Linked DNA regions of Homo sapiens: all the other regions are linked to region 2. Evidence: fine-mapped expression QTL. A gene starts in region 2. Each other region holds a variant in brackets. All regions are shown on one strand. Distances are between the middles of the regions.

Evidence for each region. PIP is the estimated chance that this variant, and not a neighbour inherited with it, causes the effect.
Region 1: its variant is the best candidate, but not a certain one, in a credible set for the expression of ABCA5 in esophagus muscle (GTEx, PIP 0.85).
Region 3: its variant is the best candidate, but not a certain one, in a credible set for the expression of ABCA5 in visceral fat (GTEx, PIP 0.86).

The regions. Positions count from the first base shown.
Region 1 is chr17:69,251,143-69,256,373 of GRCh38, forward strand. ABCA5 (ATP binding cassette subfamily A member 5) reads right to left here. Exons shown (of 39, transcript NM_172232.4): 29 at 5,015-5,141; 30 at 4,591-4,708; 31 at 4,401-4,492; 32 at 3,173-3,348; 33 at 2,652-2,727; 34 at 2,431-2,525; 35 at 605-724. Among named protein-coding and RNA genes, the nearest start is that of PRO1804, 19 kb to the left of the region's middle. The variant T/C (reference allele first, on the strand shown) is at 2,639.
Region 2 is chr17:69,324,166-69,329,396 of GRCh38, forward strand. ABCA5 (ATP binding cassette subfamily A member 5) reads right to left here and starts at 2,968. Exons shown (of 39, transcript NM_172232.4): 1 at 2,887-2,968. RefSeq lists silencers at 2,655-2,744, 2,875-3,254 and an enhancer at 3,335-3,474.
Region 3 is chr17:69,221,268-69,226,498 of GRCh38, forward strand. It overlaps ABCA10 (ATP binding cassette subfamily A member 10), which reads right to left. Exons shown (of 39, transcript NM_001377321.1): 3 at 4,058-4,262; 4 at 1,266-1,430; 5 at 525-628. The coding sequence starts at 4,091. Among named protein-coding and RNA genes, the nearest start is that of ABCA10, 4.9 kb to the right of the region's middle. The variant C/T (reference allele first, on the strand shown) is at 2,360.

The sequences.
Region 1 (5,231 bases), 73 kb before region 2:
GTACTTTTTCCATCATATCATATCAGTGAATACATGATATCTGCACAACATCGTTTAGTTAAGGTAGTATTTGCCAGCTTTCTCAACTGTAAAGTTACTATTTTTCTCCTTCTGTCGTTCATTTTTTACAAGAAACTGGCTAAGTCCCGTCCAAACTTGGGGGATAGGAGATTAAGCCTCCTCCCTTGAAGTGGGTATTATCTACATATATTATTATTTGGAATTGTTCTGTAAGGAAGATGTACCTCTTCTCTGACACATTTCTTTACTCAATTATTTATTTATGTAAGTAGAAACTCATATGTTTATTTCATATTTGTGTTACATAATTAATCCAATATATAACAATTTTTTGAAATAACAAGTACTATGCCTAAAAATAATATTCCAAGTTATTGAAATATTAAGTGAATTCAAATTCAAAGTAGACAGCCATATTTTTAAAAAACTCAACATACTTCCAAGTCAATCTATCAAAAGCTAACTCAAAAACTAAAATATTTAACATTTAAATTACTAACTATTGCCATGTTTTTGAAATGATGACTTTCAAAATCCAACCCCCAACCTCTTCCCCTGAATGGCACGCTATTTAGACATCAACCTTAACTGCCCAGACACCATGATAGCTACTCGATCACAGACAGCCTCTGCCTCCTCCATATAGTGAGTGGTCAGAATAGCAGCCCGCTTTCTGTTTTTAAATGCAGTTCGAATTGCTCGCCTATAAAACATAAATAAAACAAAAAGAGAGGAACACATCTGTTTGTTAAAAAAAAATGGGTTTTTAAAAATCCAACCGGTTGGTTAATTAAGTTAATTAAAACTTACCAAATATCAATTGCTATGGCTATTACATCCTGCCCAACTATGATTTTTTTTTTTTTGAGACGGAGTCTCGCTCTGTCCCCCAGGCTGGAGAGAAGTGGCCCGATCTCGGCTCACTGCAAGCTCCACCTCCCAGGTTCACACCATTCTCCTACCTCAGCCTCCTGAGTAGCTGGGACTACAGGTGCCTGCCACCACACCCGGCTAATTTTTTTTTGTATTTTTAATAGAGACGGGGTTTCACCGTGTTAGCCAGGATGGTCTCGATCTCCTGACCTCGTGGTCTGCTGCCTCAGCCTCCCAAAGTGCTGGGATTACAGGCGTGAGCCACTGCGCCAGGCCATGACTTTTATATTCTAATTTATTTTCCCTTCATTTTGAAAGCTTGTCAAATGGAAAAAAAAAATCTATGATTTCAAATGTTAATATGGGCTAAAAGTATGACAACAAATAAATTTTAAAATTGATGCCTTTTCATGTTATAACCAAAACAGGCTTTGAATCATAAGAAAACCGTAACATGCATCCAAACCAAACCTTACATTTTATAGACATGGAAGTTGAGGCTTAAAGAGTTGTTCAAGGCCAGGCACTGTGCCTCACACCTGTAATCCCAGCAGTTTGGGAGGCCGAAGGGGGCGGATCACCTGAGGTCTGGAGTTCGGGACCAGCCTGGCCAACATGGTGAAACCCTGTCTCTACCAAAAATACAAAAAATTAGCCGGGCTTGGTGGCTCTTGCCTGTAGTCCCAGGTACTTGGAAGGCTGAGGCAGGAGAATCGCTTCAGCCTGGGAAGCAGAGGTTGCAGTAAGCCAAGACGGCACCACTGCACTCCAGCTTGGTCAACAGAACAAGACTCTGACTCAAAAAAAAAAAAAAAAAAAGAGTTGTTCAACTAATTAGTACTTTACAGGCACTGCATAATGACATTTCAGTCAATGATGAAACACATTTCCAACAGTGATTCCATAAGATTATAATACTTTTATAATGTATCTTTTCTGTGTTTAGATACATCTAGATACACAAATACCATTGTGTTACAACTGCCTACAGTATTCAGTGCAGTGACATGCTCTACAGATTTATAGCCTAGGAGTAATAGGCTATACCATATAGTCTAGGTGTGTAGTAGGCTATAACCACCCAGAGATTTATATAAGTACACTCTATTATGTTTGCACAACGACAACATCACCTTTCTCAGAATGTATCTCTGTCATTAGGCAATGCATGACTGTCCTAGAAAGAGTCTCAACATAAATTTAAGACACTATTATTATGGAAAAGATCATTTGTATGCTAAATGACTAGAAAAAAACTTAAAAACTATTCAGAACACTAGAACTCTTTATCTTAATAATGACTCATGCTTATTTCTGTTTCGGAATATGTAAAATATTATGAACACTTCATGAAAAATATGCAAAGTTTTAAAAGCTTAAGGAAATCTCTAAATCTATTTAATTTTTAATTACTAGTGTATCGTTTGAATAGGATTTAAAATCAAGATGTACATATAACTAACATTAAACTATTATAATAAAAGAAACTGTTCTATTCTAAAGTATCATGTACTGTGTCACAAGTACCATACTCACCACATGTGCTGTTTGGCTTTGGGATCCATACCTGTAGATGGTTCATCTAGCAAAGTAATCTGAGGATTCCCTAGCATACTTAGAGCAAAACACAACTACATGGAAAGAAAAAGATGGGTGGGAAATTAACAAAGGTTCACTATAAGGAATCTATCAAGACAATATCAGGTACTAAACTATCAATAAAAATACAGGCATTATTTGGTGT[T/C]TAATGAAAGTACCTTTCGTTTGATTCCTGCAGGTAGTTTCTTTACAGTCTTCTGAAGATGTTCTTTTAAATCAAGTGCATGTGTTATTCTGCAAAATGAACAATACAAAATGAGAATACCATGATATATATAAACACAAATACCAACTGGGTGTGATCCCTGATGTTGTTTTCTCTAGAATAGTTACTTAGTCGAAGCTTATTATAAGTAGGTAAGGGCAAAAGTCTCCAATTTACATCATTTTAAATAAATTAATATCTTGATAAAATGGTTCACTTTGAATTAAAATAAGTTTCATGATATCTATAGGTATATTTATCCTGTAACTAGAAATTAAAAAATGACCTTTTTATAACTATCATAATTTACAGCTATCAGTATATTTTCATATATCATAAAGAATATATGAAAAAGTAATAAACATTTTCTATAAAAATCATTGTCCACAGAAATGCTTGTTATGAAATTTTAAAAATATGAAATGCAAACCTTTCCTCTAAGTAACAAAAGGAATCTAAAGACAATTATTTTACCGACTTATGACTTCTTTCATGTCACTTGCACTCATTCCTTTGACAGCTCCATAAATTTCAAAATGTTCCTGCAATGTAGTATCTGGCCACAAAGGGTTTATCTGAGGACAGTAACCCATACACTTCAGTGAATCATCATCTTCACTTGTCTCTGAAGAATAATCTCCTAAAAATACCTATAGAAACACAAACCAATTTTTATTATTTTGCTTAATTTACACTGTGAAGGAAGTGGCAAGTACATTAATTAAAACCCCTTCCTACAGCCAGACTAATATCAAGTCAGATTTGTACTCCTTTATTGTCATTATTATTATTATCACTAAGTAACTGAGACTACAAACATGTGCCACCATGCCTGGCTATTGCTTTTTTCTTTTTTGAATTTTAGGAGGGAAGATGTCTCACTACGTTGCCCAGGCTAGTCTTGAATTCCTGAGCTCAAGTGATCCTCCTGCCTCAGCCTCCCAAAGTGCTGGGATTACAGGAATGAGCCACTGCACCCGCCCAGATGTTTTACTCCTTTTTGATGTTTGATGATGGAAGGACATATAAAGCTAAGTCAGAGTTCAGAGACTTGGTCAGAAAGGGTAATACAGAGTTGGATGAAAAAGCAAGATGTAATTCTAATGATCAGGGAGCTTCACTGGAAGGTGACATTTGAGCCAAAGAGGTAAGTGAATTTAGTATATGTATTTCTAGGGTATAAGGTATAGCCAAACAAAGAAAACATCTTGGGCAAAAACCCAAAGAAAAGAGTATGCCTGGCATTTTCCAGGAAAGCAATGAGTTAGTGTGGCTGGCATAAAGTAAGCAAGGGGAGAGAAGCAGGAAATGGGATCAGGGTAGTTTTGTGAAGTATCCACAAAGTGGTCAGTGACATGCTTATAATAAAAGACTAGCTGATGGCAGGTCAAAACAAGCTCCCATATCTCCTGAAGCTAATAAAACTGTCTTCCATTAAGTTGGTAGACAAATAACTCACGCATGTAAGCATTACAAAAGCAGAAATACTGTATATGCGTGTGTCTACATGTGTCTATGAAAATTTCACCATGCACATTATTTTTACAGATAACCCAAAAGATCATAATTTGATCAGGCTGTACAAAAAATTCTAAAAATATACATAAAAATTGAATATAAAATCCGAATTTGTCACTAAAAGTTTATGTTAATTAACAATATAAATCACATTCAACATATCCTATACTCTTATATATCATACCTGGCCTGAAGTTGGTTCAATATCACCAACCAGAATATTAATAATTGTGCTTTTGCCAGCACCATTTGGACCCAATAGTCCTAAGATCTCTCCTAAAGGAATTGAAAGAAAAAAAAATCATAATCAAATCATACTAAAAGTAGAAATTACTCTTCTAGAAAAGTTATGTAAGGAAAAATTAAATACCAGCCTTTTTTCACACAGAAAGAGATGTATTTAGTTGCCACTTTCTTTACTTTTCTTGAAAGAAGAAAATCTTTCTTGTCATCATATTCTTTATGCAAATTGCTGACCATAATGGATGGTTTCTAATAAGAAAAATTGTATTTAAAAAGAAAGTTATAAAACTTATCATGAAATGACAGGCTGCACATACCTCATATCCATATTACAAAAATTATATTGGCTAATAAGGGGATACTGTACAAATAAATATCCATTTATGACTGAAATTCTGGCTTATTCAAAAGTAAGTAAACGAAGTATTTTTTTCCAAGAAAGATTTTTTTCAGATTGCTTCATATGCAAAGAAAAATATTTTTCAGATTAATTTCTATATACCGGGAATTGATCATTTCATATTTACTATGACTTAGCCATAAAGAATAAATTACCTCCTCACAACACTGGCAACCCATCAGCTCTTTGACCTTTAGTCTTTCAGCTTTGACATCTTCATCTTCATCCTCATTGTCTGGTGGTTCTGGAAGCTTCCTATTTTTAGACTTCGTTGAAAGGTTTCTACATATATATAATAAATATAAAAGACAGTAGGTTTTCAAATAATTAAAATAGTAAGAAATTCAGATACTAGGTAGAGAAAAGACTGAA
Region 2 (5,231 bases):
AAGGATTTATGCATCCAACATTATGAGGCAAAAAAAATAAAGTTAGACACTGTCACTAACTTTGCAGAGAGATAAAATTTAATATAATGTGATAAGAGAGAAAGAGCCTGGAAAGGAGTGGAATGGAATTTCCAGGCAGAAAGAAAAGAATGGTAAAGCTAGACTCCCAAACAAAAGGGCTTGACTTTTGTGAAGAACAGGGATACCTGCCATATGGCAGAGGCATAAGGCAAAGTGAACCGGAGCAAGGGGTGCAGATGTATGTTCTAGATAACACGGTAAAGGCAGGCATTGGGAATGGATTATGAAGTTTCTGGTATCCAAAATTAGACACCCTAATTTGTGCACTCATATCTTTCCTCTACTGTACTTTTCACAACTGTGAGTCATGTTTAATTTCCTAGCAATCACATATTCCACTAGTCCATCACTTTCCCAATCCCCAAATCTCCAAAGCTTCCATCTGTAGGATCACCCTCAGATTATGACCTTGAATCCTACTTTACTGAGAAAACTGAAGCAATTAAAAGAGATTTCCAAAATCCACCACAAAGTAATGTTATACATTTCAACAATGTGCCATTTCAGCCTAAACTGAAGACTGATTTCATTACAACTCTGAAACACAAGAAATTAAATGCAATCTGGTATTAGCTACACTTTTAAACTAAGATATTTTTGGAATGAGAAATTAGGAACATATCTGGCACATGAAACAAACTCCTGCCTAGCTACATCATTTGCTTCTCAATCAATGAAATAAAAGCACTACAAAATATGCCTTTTAGCTTAAAAAGGGATAAATTATAAATGCTCTCATCTTCTTTATTGCTTTAAAATTTACTGTAAGGTGGTGCAATAATAAAACAAAATGCAGTCAGGTGCAGTGGCTCACGTGGCAATCCCAGTGGGAGGAAGGCTTGAGCCCAAGAGTTCAAGATCAACCTGGGCAACATAGAGAGACACTGTCTCTACCAAAAAAAAAAAAAAAAAAATAGCCAGGCGTAGGGGCACACAACTGTGGTCCCAGCTACTTGGGAGGCTGAGGTGGGAGGATCACTTGAGCCTGCGAAGTCAAGGCTGCAGTGAGCCAAGATCCTGCCACTGCACTTCATCCTGGGTGACAGAATGAGACCCTGTCTCAAAAAAAAAAAAATGCTAGTTGTCAATATAATTTAACCTAAATTTTATCACAGTGTTTCTTGCTGAGGGAGAAAATAACAATGCAATGGTACACAGAGGACAAGTCATCCAATAAATTTTCTTATGCATAATAGGTCCTTAAAAGCTTGCCCTTAAAACTATTTTTAATCCAACTAATTTACATACTAGAAAAGTTATGACTTAGTACAATATCATAAAATTCTTTTATGCAATCACCCTCTCAACTAAACTCAAGGACAGAGATTATAAATTGTATTCATATCGGTACTCTTGGCACATAGTATGGTATCTGGAATGTAAAAGACATGCAACAAACCAGCCTGGGCAATATAGCAAGACTTCGTCTCTGAAAAACAAATAAAAAATTACCTGGGCGCAGTGACACACGCCTGTAGCCCCAGCTATTCAGCAGGGTCCCTAGAGTCCAGACGTTCAAGGCTGCAGTGAACTTTGATCGCACCACTGCACTCTAGCCCGAGACGCTGTCTCTTTAAAAATAAAAGACATGCAATACACATGGAATGTACTAATAAATTTGCTCTTATAGTGAATGTAAGATTTCCCTACACTAAATCTGTTTGAAAGGAAATATACTCAAACAGCACATATGCAAAGATTAACGCCTCTTTAGTTTGATTTTAACACAAATACCCACAAAGCCCTAACTGCCCTAATAATGTTCCCTACTATGGAGTCTTCCCTAAAACACATACAATATTGCTCTCCCGGCAAACACAAAATATACTAAATAAAGCACCAGAATTAGGGTCTGGCAGCCCGGGTTGGAATCTCAACTCCATCCTTTTACTAGCTGAGACCTTAATAAGTTACTTAACCTCTTTGAGGCCCATTCTCCACACCTGCCCAACTGGAATAACCCCCTCCAATCCTACAGGGTTGCTGTCAGAATGAAAAGAGCTAATACCGAGCCTGGCTTAAAGCTGTAGTCCAGCAAATACTCCTCTTCCCTTAGATTCCTTCAGAACGCCCTTGTAGAAAGTAAACGTGGTTATTATCTTCATTATTTTCGGACTTATTTATTTAAAACGTAAATCGAAGCCTGAGGAGCCCAGGGGAAAACCTCCTTCAGCTTAATAGCTCCAGCCTGCCCAGCTTTCCGATCCAATTAAGTATTTCCATGCCTGGAGCTCCTATTCGTGTTTTAGGATCAGGGAATTTCCCTCCCAAACTGTGTCATGAGATCTGCGCATTTTCTTCTCACTGAAACTCCTTTTAACACGCAAGGTAATGATCCGCGCGTAACCTCGCAGGGAAGAGCAAGCGCTCATTACCCAGCTGTTCAGACGGAAATTTACATCAATATTTGTTTTCCTTCTTTCCCTGAGGTTGCTGAGGGTGGAACGACAGCGTCCAGGCAAAGGCAGTGTCCCGAAGTCCCACGGCCGGACCCGGTCCCAGGGGAGCCTCGCGGAGCCCCCGCCGCAGGGCCCCGACCCCCTCACGTCCGCATCCTGGGCGCTCCCACCGCATCCCCGAGGCTGGCAACCCGCGCTTCCCGGGAGCTGAGGGAGGTCTGTTTCCCTCAGCTCGCCGCCTCTGCCCGCTTCCGAGCCCGCTTCACCCCACACCTCAGACGCCGAACTCCCCTTCTCTCCCCGCCGTCCCTCGCTGGCCAGCCCCTCCTCGTCCCCTCAACTCCCCCAGGGACGGCTGTCCCAGGCTAGCCTCAAGCGCCGCCGCCGCCCGCGACGCCCGCCTCACCTCAGGGCCCGAGCCGCAGAGCTGTCAGGCCTGGACGCGCTCAGTCTGTTGACTCAGTGCGGGTGACCCAGCTGGGATCTGTGCGAGGGCGCGGCCGCGCGCACCCGCGCGCTCCTGGCGCAGGCAGAGCTGGCGGCGCCGAAGTCGCGCCCCGCCTCCTGCAGAGCGCACCTGAGGGCGGGGCTCCTAGAAAGCGCCGCTCCGCGTACGGGCGCGCTTCAGACGCTCGGCCCCGCGCGTCCCGGCGCACGCAGGCAAGCAGCGCGCCCGGAAGAGGAGAGCGGCTGAGGGTGGGGCGAGCGGTGGCGCGCCGCTGCCCAGGGCCCCTGAGCCACTAGAGTCGGGCCTCGTGGCTCTTCCCCAGGGCCTCCCACGCCTGGGTTCTGCGGGGATCTCGCCACGCTCTTTCTGGAGGCACGGGCAAAAACCACGGCCTCGTGTCTCAGTGGTAAACCTGCCGCCTCTTAGCGGGTGACCTTGGCCCACGGCCCTCTCCTCATCTGCCTCGCCCAGTCACGTCTCCTCTTAAGCATCCTTGCCGTCTGTCTCCTGGCATTTGGATGGGCCTCTCTGAACGCGTTTTGAGTCCTCTGCAGCCCCGCTTCCTCCCGCCGCGGCATCTGGAGTGCTGTGGCCCCGTTTCCGTAACTCTTGCCTCCCCTCCCCAGCCTCCTCATTGGCCCTCACACCCCGACCTGGGAGGTCCTCCCACTGAGGGTGCTTGTAGTTCGCGGAGTGTCCTCATCAAAGACTGGGAATGCGGCAGATGCTGAATTTTCCAAACGGCCTGAGACACATGACATCTGTGAGAGACTGGATACTGCACTTACTTTGCTAAAAATATAATCTAGTGTTTTGAGCTTCATTACTCAAAGTGACCTAAATGGGGTCAAAAGTTATTAACACTAACATTACGTATTTTCCTCTCCACATTTCTGTATAGTCACATTCCCTTGCACAAAGACTTTTTTTTTATTCTGTCAATCCTGTGTACATCATGTTTTTTTTTTTTACTTGTCTTTGTGTTATCTGCTTCTCGAATTTAAACCAGGTCTCCCCAACATGCACTCTGCTTTCTAAATTCTTAGGGGAAAAACAAACAAACAAGGAATCAAGTTTTACTTATGGAATATGAATTAAATAGAAAATTCAAAGAGGTTCGTCAGAATCCTTGATGATTAAAACAGCGGTCCCCAACCTTTTGGGCACCAGGGACCAGTTTCATGGAAGACAGTTTTTTCTGGGGGAGGGAGGATGGTTTGGGGATGATTCAAGCACATTATATTTACTGTGCACTTTATTTCTACTGTTACTACACTGTAATATGTAATGAAATAATTATACAACTCACCATAATGTAGAATCAGTGGGAGCCATGAGCTTGTTTTCTTGCAACTAGACAGTCTCATCTGGGGGTGATGGGAGACAGTGACAGATCATCAGGCATTAGATTCTCATAAGGAGCACGCAACCTAAATCCCTCACATGCGCAGTTCACAATAGGGTTCTCGCTCCTATCACAATCTAATGCCACTGCTGATCTGACAGGAAACGGAGTTCAGGCCCTAATGCCAGCCATGGGGGGCCCCTGTAAATACAGATAAAGCTGCACTCACTTGCCCTCCGCTCACCTCCTGCTGTGCTGCTTGGTTCCTCGCAGGCCACAGATCCCGGTAGCAGTCTCTGGCCTGGGGATTGGGGACCCCTGGATTAAAAGATCTAGCAATGGGGATGGGGGAAAGGGAGATAAGTATATTCAAAAAACTACACCAGGAAACTAAAGAAGGCATGTAATGAAAACTATCCCTGATATATTCTGTCTCTTTTGGAAACATCTAGAACATTTTAGTTACAAATTCTCAATGGCCTAGGATTTGGGGCCAAGTAAAGAAATATACATGAAAGATAAACTTGGTTAACATGTTACTGAACCATACTTTCACCCCAACACTTCTCACTAGTAGCCTTAACCTGCCTTAACTTCAGAAGTCTACTCATTTCTACTACTATTCTAGGCATTTATTTCTTACATTTCTTATCCTTGTAATGTTCTCTGTCATTCATTCTGTCTGCTCATGCTTTTACTCTTGTTTCTAAATGACATGACCAAAACCCAATTCTCCAAAAATCTCATCACCCTGGACAAAATGATCTCACTCTCCTCCCAATTGCCTACATACTACCATCTTGTTCACATCATTTTATTTACTTACCATCTCTTCAATTAAATTGTAAATAGTCTTAGGTTAAGAGCTTTTTCTTGACTTGTCTTTTTCTTTTCTTTTCTTTCTTTCTTTATTTTTGTGACAAAGTTTTGCTCTGTCACCCAGGCTGGAGTGCAGTGC
Region 3 (5,231 bases), 100 kb before region 2:
GCCCTTTTGATGGTGTGGTAGGGATAGATAATATTGAGTTGAGTTGAGTCAAAGGAGGACAACCCTTTCAAGAAACTTAGCCATTAATAGAAGGAAGTTAGGGTAGTTGTGTGAAGAGGAAAGTGGATAAAGGAAGGTCTTGACCATAAGTGAAGAAATTAATTTTAAATCCTGAAGAGAAGAATCTAGCAGAAAGGCAGAGATTGAAAAGAGGAGACAAAAACAAAAGTCCATAGTTGAACTTTGCTGATGAAGTTGGGAGGGATGGGATCCAGACCATGAACTGAGGAAAGACATTAGGGATGAAGAAAGAGAATGTGTGTAGGGGGTCATAGGTCTGTAGTTTTACAGGGTTTATGTTAGAAGTTGGGAGATATTCCCATGTGACAGCTTTTGTTTTCTCTGAGGATGACAGGCAAAGTATCACCTCCTAAGAGTGTAAGAGTAAGGTAGGGGATGAGGCAGATATTTAAAAAGAGGGAAGAATACAGATTTAAAATATAGCTTTGAAGTTAGGCACTTACTTCTATAATTGCAGCATTAATTGCAGCTTGAAAAGCTACAAACCCTTTTAGCCAGTACTTTGCCAAGTAACAAAAAATTTCACCATGCATGGCCCAACAGTGTTCTTTAAGGAAGAAGAAAAACATGTCCATAGTTATATAATGGAGTCAACTCCTGGAATTAAAACTTTAACTTTGGCTCAAAAATCAAAATATCTAAATGTTAGCTCAAAGCCTATGATTATATGATATAGAGGATTTTTAAAGTACTCTACAGAATTGGAGAAAAAAAGAACATATGATGGCAGGGGCAGTGGCTCATGCCTGTAATCCCACCACTTTGGGAGGCCGAGGCGGGTGGATCATTTGAGGTCAGGAGTTCGAGACCAGCCTGACCAACATGGTGAAACCCCATCTCTACTAAAAATACAAAAAAATTAGCCTGTAGTCCCAGCTACTTTGGAGGCTTAGGCAGGAGAATCACTGGATCTCGGGAGGCAGCGGTTCCAGTGAGCCAAGATCGCGCCACTGCACTCCAGCCAGGGTGACAGAGGGAGACTCCATCTCAAAAAAAAAAAAAAGGACATATGAGTAGTTGCCAAAATAATGAGACTCATCCTAAGTTAAAGACTGATGATTAAGTTCAGAGGGAAATGTATATTAATTCTTTACTTGGTTGTATTAATATTCCTATCAGTCATTCCAAACAGGGGATTCCATGAAGTATCAAAAAAAAATTATAATCAGTTTTTTTATAGTTACCTGTGTATTCAGAGTGCTCCTTTATAACTGGGATTCTATATCCCCAATTAAACTTCAGGCGATATGAGAAAGTATCACTAAATATAACTCCCACCATTTCATGGTATTTTTTTGGAAGTTCTATATCCATGGTCTCTTCATCTGGTGTCCCAATGACTGTTCTTCCTACCATGTATGAAAAACATAAATAAATAATCATGTAAACTTATTACTAGAGGACACAAAAACAAAATACAGTTGCTTGTTTTATATAAAATTAGTGGTATTATATATTATTTCTGGATAGCTGCCTCTTAGTAAAAGGCTGAGTGAAACTATTGTTTTAAGTTCAATGCAAATACATGAAAAGACACAAAGGACACATTGTCTTTTAAAAATCTGCAGCATATTGCTTTTAGTGTGATCTCATTTTGGTAAAGAAAACTGAATTTATGTGCCTATGTAAGCATAGAAACATACTCTATATATGACCATGTGCATATTTGCCTTGAAGGATATACACAATTTGAATGAGGGGTAGGGGAGGAGAGGGGGTAGGGGAGGAGAGGAAGTAGTGGTGAAGATGAAAGGAAAAGCTCTCATATTTTTGCTTCATACAAGTTTGTACTATTCAACTTTTTTTAAAGTAGATATTACTTTAGTGACTAAAATAATTTAAGAATTAAAAGGAAAAATATTTAAAGTAAGCAATACAAATACTCAGAATTTGGTGTTTTCTCTTTTTCTGCCAAGATTATAAACTGATATCACATGAAAATAGTACACTAGAGGTAAATTGTATACAAAAAATCAGAGTACAAAAATAAAAAATATAGTCTACCTACAGATTCTCTGAGGTCAAGAACACTCTCTAAGAATTAAGTGTATAGTAATCAGTGCATAAATGAATGAGTTTACAATCTGCAGGAGTAATCCACCCACTAAGTGTTTAATAGATCTATTACTAACAGAAGCTTTGAAAATCACTGGTCCAATTAGTGCCTCCTTTTTCACGTTTATGTATTATGTTCTAAAAATTTTATTAACTTTGTATCTCACTCAGGGTGAAATCTACATTAAGATGAAAAAGCTGTTTATTTTATGCTGTAGCCATA[C/T]CTTTCAAAACTCCTCATCCTTCCCAATATAGAGTCAGGCGGTGAAACTTTTATGAGGACAGTGCTAACATCACTGATTTTCTCTAGGGGTATAAAAAATACTGTCAAGGCCAAACCATGAATATTTATGCTAAAAAGCAAGAGTTAGATAAATGTAGAATAAGACAGTGAGAGAGGAGCTGTGGTTGGAACAGGCGAGCATGGTAGCTGGAATGAGATATTTTATATAAGAAAGAGACAGAGTCCAGTGGTCCGTGAGACTAAGACAGAAAGTGGCTATTAGCTTACACTGTGCATACAGGAAGAATAGTCCCTGAGGCTTCAGTAAATGCTTCATGAGTTCAGAAAAAATGAGGTAAATGACTACACAAAGGAAGTGAATAGAGACAGATCAGGGCAGAATCAACACTGTGGTCAGGCAGAACATGTAAACAATGCAAGTAAGGGAGGCCCACCAAAGTCAAAGCTCCAGAAACTGCAATGAAGAATTACAAAACAGGGTAAAGCAGCCAGGGATAACAATACCCATTCGAAAGCTTGGATAGGTTAGGCACAGAATATTAGCAACTCACATAAAATAATTAAAATTCAGAGTTTGGAGGTGTCCCTTGGCATGGCAATCCAGACACCAAAAAACTAAATAAAAGTTTCAGAAAGACAAGAAAAAGCAGTGATTAGAGCTGAGACGTTAACAGATTGGATAAAATGTACAAAAGGATGAAATGGCCAATGTTCAGAACCCTGGCAGAATGAGGGCTAACAACAAGAGAAATTTGATAGTAGGCTAAGATTGCTGAAGAAAAGAACATTTTATCCTGATACTTTCCCTATGCAGGAGCAAAGGCCTCTATGGAGAGTCCAGAGACCACAGCTGACCACCAATAGTTACTCCTAATGGCAGTAGAGATATAAAGGATGGTAGGCAAAGGTCTCACATAGTAAGTAGGACTCTCAGGTGTTCTTATTTCTTTATGAGATGCATACATCAAATTAATGCAGCATCCTACATAACATAGAGACATCTATTTTCTGAGTCCAGATATGCAGAAAAAGTCTTATGGGAAAAAAAAAAAAAAAGCCTCACTACTCTAAGATCAAGGGCTGTGAATTTGTTGACTTTCAGTAGCCAATACCTGATTTGATTTTAAATAATTTTAAATGCCCTGAGCTGTACATTTTAACTATTTTTATACACCAAACAGTAATGCTTTTTCAACACCATTGCTAAGCTTGAGTTTGAATTTCAAACACCTTTGATTTATAATTCCTATATACTGGGAACTATATTTATTTCAATCTCAATTGAAAATAATTAAATCCTTAAAATTTTTTGAAACTCTTTAAATTATAGAATACCAACCCAAATATAAAGTTTTTTAAGTTAAGTTTTGGAAAAGTGAAATTTGTATCATCTAAAATGGGTCCAATCTTTTTTTCCTACTGCAACAATATGTTCTAGTATAAAGGGCAAACGGTATGCATATCATTAAAAACAAACAAACAAACAAAAGTAAATCATTTCATCTGTTGCCCACCTACCCTTAGCTTCACACCAACCCCTGTACTGCATATATAATGAGAATCTTTGCCTCAGTTGAGAATCACTGACACACAGGCTAGGTAAGTAAATTCAACCTGCAAAAAGAACTTGAAAATTAAGTCACATAATACTGAAACATTGGTTATTGGACAACACACCTTTCATAAAGGAAGCCAAGGCCATCTTATTCATTATCCTTTGTGTTATGTTACTGACTGGTGTATATGCCACTACCAGGCCAGAGTCATTAAACTGATCCACGCTTCCCAGGACTTTAGGAGGTTGTTCAGGAAAACGGGTAGCTCTGAAGTGTTCCGAAAAGATGCACAAATATAGCCCTAGAAACAATGTTATTGTCCATTCCTCCAGCACACAAAAGAGAAATGAGCCATGTTATAACGTGGTCCAGACCAGTGAGAAACATCCAAACACATTTTTAAGGCAGAATGTATTGCCATTGAGCATGACTTCATTTCAGTCTGTAATTTTTTTCTGCCCAAATTAATATCTACCTTTTAAAGAAAAAAACACCCTTTCAAAAATACACAACTTTTGAGATAATATCAACAATTGCAATCAATCTTAACCCAGTGATTTAGCACCCCTATTAGTGGGACTGCCATTGATTTTATGCCCTCATATTTGAAGCAACGTAAGTATATGGCATCACACAGAAGATACTCTTGCCAAAAATATTTAACCAGAATTGGATCCTGCTTTTAGATCCAGCTCACTGCTTACAAAAAATATAGATGATAAAGGGATGACTTAAATGACAGCATGGAGAGGCAATCAGATAAAAAGAGAACATGGAATATTCAACAGGATAACTAGTTTTGTCTCATTGGTTCCTGAACAAATCAACCTTAAAAGACATTTTGGGGGAAATTTGGAAAATTGAATTTGGCCATGGAACTAGATGATATGGAATTATTTTTAATTTTGTGTAGTGGGATAGTGGTAATGTAGGGAACCAAGTTCTTAATTTTTTGAGATACTAAAATATTTAGCCATTACATATATTTTAGGGAAGAAGAGGAGACAGAGAGATGAAGCAAAGATGGCAAGATGTTAACAGCTGTCAAATCTGGATGGTGGATGTATAGGTGTTCATTGTACCAATATTTTCACATTTCTGGATTGACATACTTTTTTTAAATTCTAGTGAGTAATAAATATAGATGTATCCTTCTTCAATATACGAAGCAAAATATTTGATCGAACTGCTTCGGAAGCTATTGCAGAAATTTAAAAGGATGATATAAATCCTGTTAGCTCCCACTGAAATGGTACTGACTATTTCTGAACAGACTGCAATCTCTACATGGTCAA